Linked DNA regions of Homo sapiens. The protein of the gene in region 2 interacts with the protein of the main gene of each other region in a biochemical or structural test. Each region holds a gene or a part of one and is shown on either strand. Other genes may lie near its edges.

Region 1 (3,652 bases), about 35 Mb from region 2:
AACTTAGGTGCCTCCCCCACTGCTCTCCACCCCGTTCCCAGCCAGGCCTAGCTCTTCATAGCACTGTCTCACTCCACCAACATTACTCATCTCACGATCCTGGCGCCCCCGGGGAAATTATACATTCCTTAATGGCAAGGCTACTCCCACCAATGTTGGAACTACATTGAAGAGAATATAAGGGGCCACCAGGACTGAATACCTGCCTGGGACACCCTCTGCTCACACACTATCGGTACCAGGTCCCAGAGCTCCAAGAGAGCTACAACTGCCCTTGAGGCCACCGGCCCTATTAAGATGAGACATTCCTCCCAGCCCTAAGAAGAGCCAGCCCCAGCCTTCCAAGAGAGAAGTCAGGAGACAGGGCTCTGAGGCTGCCTGTGGAGCCTGCAGCCAAGCCATCAACCTGTCAAGAGGCCAGCAGCCAGCATGGGGAGTGGTGGTGGAGGAAAGCAGTGGTCTGTCAGCTGTTGCCCAGAGCTGGTGATGACGTGAGCCTCCAGGCTGTTTGTTTTGAGGGAATGACTGTGTGCTCCTCGGGGCTACCTAGGCCTCCAGTTCTTCCCTTTAAGCCTACAACACCCTAGCTGAGACCTTGACGAGTGAGAAGGAAAAGGCCTATTCTGGCAGTATCCTCCTGAGCTGGGCCTCTGGGAGGTTGTGAATATTGAGTAAGATGATGCTTTAGGAACAACCAACATGGTACCAGGCAGAGCAGGCACTTAGAAAATGCCAGGCCCAAGAGGGAGATGTGGGCCAGGTGAAGAGGCTAAACTGGACTCTTCTTCCACCATAGAACTCTCAGGCCTTGAATTGGGCCCCTGGCTCTGCTGTCCCCCAGTTTGGGTTCCCCAGAGTCTGCTGCCACTTCCCTGGCTACCTCCCCACTCCCAGCCAGGAGACAGGGCAAGAAGATGAGGGAGGCACATACTGCCGCAGAGGTCACCGAAGATGTAGTAGCACTGCTCGGAGAAGGTGATCTTGTTGACGGTATGGCGGATGAAGCCAGCTTTCAGCAGGTTGCTGGCATACTTGCGGGCCTCCCTCCGGTCCGTGAAGCCTTCCACATTGTGGTACAGCCAGTCCACCACATCTGAGCCTGGGGACAAGGCTGCCAGTTGATGGGGAGGCCCATCTGACTTGGACTCATCTGGCCTCACAGAAGCTATGAGGCTGGGGCTGGCTCCAGATCAAAGGAAGGGTCCAAGGCAAGTCCTGGGCCCTCCGGCCTGCCCTGCCCCATCACTCCCCACCCACCCTGCATCCCACCATGGGGCTCTCTCACCGATGAAAGCATTAGGGATGGTAATCTTGAGCCACATGCGGTCACGGACCTCCAACCCTGATTCAGGGGAGGCCATGGCTTTTACGATGGCAGCCATGTCACTGTGGATGGACAAGTGGAAGTCGTCTAGGCCTGGGGGTGGGAGGCAGAATGGTGAGGCAGAAAGGGGCTTTGGAGTTAGGTAAACAAGAGTTTGCATTCTAGCTCTACCATCTAGTAATTATGGGATCAATGCTGGGAAAATTACTGATTTCTTGGACACTCAGTTTCCCCTTCTGTAAAAAATGGGGATTTTAATATCTACTTTACAAGGCTATTTGAATAAAGGATTAAATAATGTAAATGCAGGTGCTTGGCCAGTGTACGATGTGCATGTGATGATAATCGAAATGGCTGCCGTTTACTGAATGCTTACTTTACACCACACATCGCAATGGTGCTTCACTTATATCCTCTCATTAAACCCACAGGAACCTGGTAAAGTTTATATCGTGAGTCCCATTTTGTAAGAGGAAACTGAGGCGCCCTGGGTGCTCATACAAGTTCAGAAGCAAACACTGTTTAGTGAGGGTTGGAGTGCCCGCTGTGGGGGAGTTGCAGTGTGGGGTTGCTGGAATGAGCCGAGCCCCATCTCCAGCCCTCTCTGATGCTCAAGCAAGAGTCTCCACATGGACCCTCATCAGTCCCCCCACCTGGCCCTGTCTGCTGGGCCCAGGAGACAGGGTGGGACACTCACGCTCTGTGTCAGGGATGGAACTGGTGATGGAGGAGCTGGTGGAGGTGATGGTGCTCAGGGAGGGGCTCATGCCGTATGCAGGGAAGGTGCCGGTCATGGCTGCAGTGTGGGAGACCCAGGCCGCAGGGTCAATGGGCCGGATGGGCTCGCCTGCAGGGAGGATGAGGAGTCATGGGCTACCCACCCCACCCACTGCTGGGCCCAACAGGATAGATATGGGGGTTCTGGGTGAGAGAAGAAAGGAGAGACAGTGCTCATGTATGTAAGCACCAGCTTTAGGACTGAGTCTCCCATCCACTTACTCCTGGGCAATGTGAAGCAACCACGTGGACTTGGGTCCCAGCACTTGGCTACAGTCAGGGTGATGGGCCTGAAAACAAGGGTGTCCTAGTGAAGGCAGGATGCGTATAGGCCAGACCAAGCCCCTTGCCCAGTGCCCCATTCCATCCATACCCCGGTTTGTGCACAATCTCCCGCAGTACCCGGACTGCATCGTCATTACTCATGTTCTCAAAGTTGATCTCGTTTACCTGGGAAAGGACCAGGAGTGGGATAAACAGCTGTGCTGGGGAGGATGAAAAGGGAACTCAACTTGGTAGGTCAGGGAGTCTTCCCCCAACCAAGAAGGGGCCTCTGAAGGAGCAGGGTACAGATGGTAGGACACCTCCCTGCCCTCTATCCACACCACCGCCTAGGATGGGCACTGATACCTGTAACAACATATCTCCTGGCTCGATGCGTCCATCAGCAGCCACGGCCCCACCCTTCATGATAGAGCCAATGTAGATGCCGCCGTCACCACGCTCGTTGCTTTGGCCCACAATGGAGATGCCCAAGAAGTTATATTTTTCTATAGAGAGTAATTTAAGACCTTAAGGGGGAGCAAGGTTCCTACCCGCATTCCCAGCCCATTAGAAAATGGAAAGGGACAGGAACTGAACTGACATTTGCTGATCCTGAATCAGGCACTGCACTCAGCATGCTCAAACATGCTTCCATGGAACCCTTGCTGGCTATAAGGTAGGGACTCAGTCCCATTTTACAGAGCAGGCAACTGAGGTTCAGTGAACTTAGAAGATGACTTTTCTAAGCCAGTAAGTGGCAGAGCCAGGAATCAAACTCAGATTTAAATCCCATAGTTGGGCTCCTTTTACTATATCCAGCTGTCTCATAAAGAGAGTACCTAGGGCAGAAATCGGAGAGCAAGGATGCAATGGCTGAGAGATGTGAAGGAGTGGGCACTCAGAAATCACTTCCTCCAGGAAGCCTTCCCTGATACCATTTTCTGCTTCCACAGCTCTCTGTGCTTATCTCTGTCATAGCCCTGATGGTGAGATACTAAAATGATCAGTTTATGTATCAGCTGATGTTTACGAAAGAGAGCTCCTTGAGGGCAGGGAACATATTCTACGCTCTCTGAACTCAAGTCTGCCCAGTGTCTGGCATATAGCAGGTGCTTGAGAGTGCTGTTTCCTCAGACTCACCCATGTTGAGAGTGACCGTGATGATGTTGAGTGACATGGTGGAGTCCGTGATGCTGCTGAAGGACGAGGACTGGAATAGACAGAGGCCCTGAGCAGCAGGTGGAGGTGGCAGGAATTCACTCCCACCTGACTCCTCCTCAAGGTGAG
Region 2 (3,652 bases):
GCCTCAGCCTCCCGAGTAGCTGGGACTACAGGCACCCGCCACCAAGCCCGGCTACTTTTTTGTATTTTTTTTAGTAGAGACGGGGTTTCAACATGTTAGCCAGGATGGTCTCTATCTCCTGACCTCGTGATCTGCCCGCCTCGGCCTCCCAAAGTGCTGGAATTACAGGTGTGAGCCACCACGCCTGGCCCCAGCCCTACATGATTTCTAAACTGTGTTTATGAATATATACACACATACGTATGGTATATGATCAGTATAACTGTGATTATTAAAAATATGAAATAGGAGCTAGGCTTGCCTAATATCTGAGGAAAACTAGACGAAAAAGACCCTGAAACAAAAGCAAAACAAAAAAATTCCTTTATACATTGTGTTTTGAATGATTGGAGTAGCTCAGAACTGCCTGTGAACAAGGGCAAAAGTGGAAGTTAGCCTTGGATTTAGAGAAAGTTGCTGTGATCTCTCTGCCCATCCCCCCAACCACAACCACTCTCCAATCCAAAGCAGAGTGCATCTTCATTTCACTTTGGGTAGTCAATGAAAATGACAGCTGAAAAAAATGTGTAAGTAGTAGGCTGGCCTGCTCTGATGCTATCCCTGGAAGTATTTTGGCCAAGTGACTAAGAGAGGTTAAGAATTTGTCAGTGACTATTGTCTTTAAGGATAAGCAATCTGCCAAGAGTTCTCTGAATTTCTTGTAGAGTTTTGTTTAAAGTTGGAATTAGGTAAATGTCATACACTTTGTTACACAGCCTCAAAAGGCAGTGTATTTCAGTGGATTAAGTAGAAGCTTGAAAAATGATGGTGACTCACTTGGAGTTACTTTTCATTATGTCTGTTTATTACTTTACTTGCCATCTATGAAATAGGGCTGAGGCTAGCAGATACATTTTTTTTTTTAATTTTTTTATTTTTGGCTGGGGTAGAGATGGGGTTTCACTATGTTGCCTAGGCTAGTCTCAAACTCCTGTACTCAAGTGATTCTCCTGCCTTGGCCTCCCAAAGTGCTTGGATTACAGGCATGAGCTACCATGCCCAGCCAGAAGAAGAATCTTTTTCTTGACTCTGTTGGGAGTTGAGAGCTTTATAAGTTGGAAATCAAAGGATTTTAGAATGACAAGGGTCAATTTTGTTTAGTTTAGTTTTTGACTAGAAAATTGAGGCCACGGAAGGGTGATGATAGGAATTTGGGAAAGTCATGTGGTTATTTAATGGTGGACCCTGGACTGGACCTCTAATCTGTTGCTGTCTACTTAGGCAACAGTTTTCCTTTTTCCCCACCGACACCTTTCCCCCATGTCACTTCCTTAGCTAAACAATGAACTTAATGGGAAACAGAGCCTGGACATCTAAGAAGCTTTAAAAAAGCCTTTTGTCATTTTCTCAGGTAAGATTATTCCTAGGTATATGATGTAATCACTTTCTGCAACCTCCTGAAGGCACCTTTCCTGAGCATTCACAGCTTTCCTGTGGTGTTCAGGTGTCCTGTGGTATTCAGATATTCCTTTAGAGTAACAATGACTAGGGCATGGTGGTGCCCACCTGCAGCCACTACCACCCCCACCCCATCTCTAAATAAAAAGTTTTTAAAAATTAGAGTAACAGTGAAGCAGATTGAATGTTAAAACACCTAGCCTCTGAAAACCACTGTGTTCATTCATTATTCCTGCTGTCCTCTCAATCTCATGAATCAGGCTGGGGTGTTGGGCAACCTGGCACACTGACTGAATACTGATCACATTAAATTTTTAAAAGGTCTCTGATTATAAATAGAATACATGCTTTCTATACATAAACCAGAAAATGGGGAATTATAAAGAAGAAAGTTATCTAGCTTCAGTAGAATTTCCCATCTTTACTCTTTCGCAAACATTCTTGTAAAAATCTTTCATTTGAGTAACGTGATTTTATAAGAAAAAAGATTTTATCCTCCTCTTAAATACAATTCAGACTATAACATTTGGCTGCCACGTCTCATTTTTAGTGACAATTTTAGTGTTTTGCCTTTTCTCAAATGTGTGACAGAAAATTATTTTTGTCCAAGTGATCCATGCACTTGGTAACAAATCCAATATACAGGAGGACATTTGTTGAAAAACAATGGTTTCCTTCACCTCCTCAAGGCTCACAGAGGGCAACTTTTAATTTTTTTCAACTGTACCCATATTTAATTCTTAGATTGTTACCTTCTTAAGCTTAAGTAATGTGCTTTTACCACCATGTTTTGATTTATCAACTTTTAGCACCTGATATGAAAGTGAGAATGTAGCTCTTTAAGCTAGTTTTCTTTTTTCTCTCCCAGGTTTGATGTTTATAATATTTTAAATTTGTCTGTTAGGTCACCTTTTTTAAATAATCATCTTTTTTTTTTTTTTTTTTTTTTTTTTTTTTTTTTTTTTTTTTTTTTTGAGATGGGGTCTGTCTCTGTCACCCAGGCTAGAGTGCAGTGGGAATCATAGCTCACTGAAGCCTCAAATTCCTGGGCTCAAGTGATCCTCCCACCTCAGCTTCCTGAGTAACTACGACTATAGGTTTGCACCACCATATTTGGCTAATTTATTTAACTTTTTTGTAGAGACAGGGTTTCCTATGCTGCCCAGGCTGGTCTCAAACTCCTGGCCTCAAGCAATCCTCCCACCGGCTTCCTAAAGCACTAGGATTACAGGTGTGAGCCACCACACCTGGCTTTTTCAACTTTGGATAGTATTTCTTGATTCCTTATGCTGTATGTCAGTAATGTTTGGATTGCTACCAGTTCTACTGTTCACTTTTTGACAATGTTGCTTTCCACATTGCCAAAGCCCTGAACCCATAACCTGTATTTGTGCTTTGCCCCAAAGTTGACCATCTTATTCGTATATGATTCTTAAAGTTGAAAATCCATAAGGCCGGGCGCAGTGGCTCATGCCTGTAATCCCAGCACTTTGGGAGGCCGAGGCGGGCGGATCACGAGGTCAGGAGATGGAGATCATCCTGGCTAACACCGTGAAACCCCGTCTCTACTAAAAAATACAAAAAAAAAAAAAAAAAAAAAAATTAGCCGGGCGTGGCAGCGGGCGCCTGTAGTCCTACTCAGGAGGCTGAGGCAGGAGAATGGTGTGAACCCCGGAGGCGGAGCTTGCAGTGAGCCGAGATCGCGCCACTGCACTCCAGCCTGGGCAACAGAGCCAGACTCCATCTCAAAAAAAAAAAAAAAAAAGAAAATCCATAGGCAACATTTACATGACTACAATTCTGTGAAATGATTCATTGCCTTGTGTGTCAGGATTGGATTTTAGACTTGCACTGTGGGTCTGGTTTTAGGATTCCTGGGCCAATCAAAGGATGAGATATCTAGCCCCAAAGTCAAATGGGATTTTTTGTTTTCTCACTCTTCATCAGTTGTTTAAATTTGTGTTACCTTTTAGTTTTTTCATATTTGGACCATGACTTTCTTAAATTTTTTCCCTAGTATTTCTGATTGCCTTTTAATGTGTTCATGCATTATTTGCCATTATTATGATCTCAAAAGTTTTCTAGGCTCTCAATCTTGTCTAACCTATCGAGTCTTCTTTGTCTAAGCTGTATGCCGAGATTCCTTTCTCGTTCTGTGCCGTTCTGAACTGGTTATTCACTAAGCCCACTACAGAGCTGTCATCCTGGAACTTCT

Evidence for each region.
Region 1: the proteins of WWTR1 (region 2) and DVL3 interact in a test that uses a peptide from one of them, tested with the Homo sapiens proteins (one large-scale study listed by IntAct).

Annotation. Positions count from the first base shown.
Region 1 is NC_000003.12:184,165,345-184,168,996, reverse strand, and holds part of DVL3 (segment polarity protein dishevelled homolog DVL-3), read right to left. Parts: intron 3,576-3,652; coding exon 3,506-3,575; intron 2,872-3,505; coding exon 2,732-2,871; intron 2,552-2,731; coding exon 2,475-2,551; intron 2,392-2,474; coding exon 2,324-2,391; intron 2,172-2,323; coding exon 2,022-2,171; intron 1,418-2,021; coding exon 1,286-1,417; intron 1,100-1,285; coding exon 932-1,099; intron 1-931. UniProt on the Homo sapiens protein: Involved in the signal transduction pathway mediated by multiple Wnt genes.
Region 2 is NC_000003.12:149,651,380-149,655,031, reverse strand, and holds part of WWTR1 (WW domain-containing transcription regulator protein 1), read left to right. Parts: intron 1-3,058; exon of another isoform or gene 3,059-3,652. UniProt on the Homo sapiens protein: Transcriptional coactivator which acts as a downstream regulatory target in the Hippo signaling pathway that plays a pivotal role in organ size control and tumor suppression by restricting proliferation and promoting apoptosis.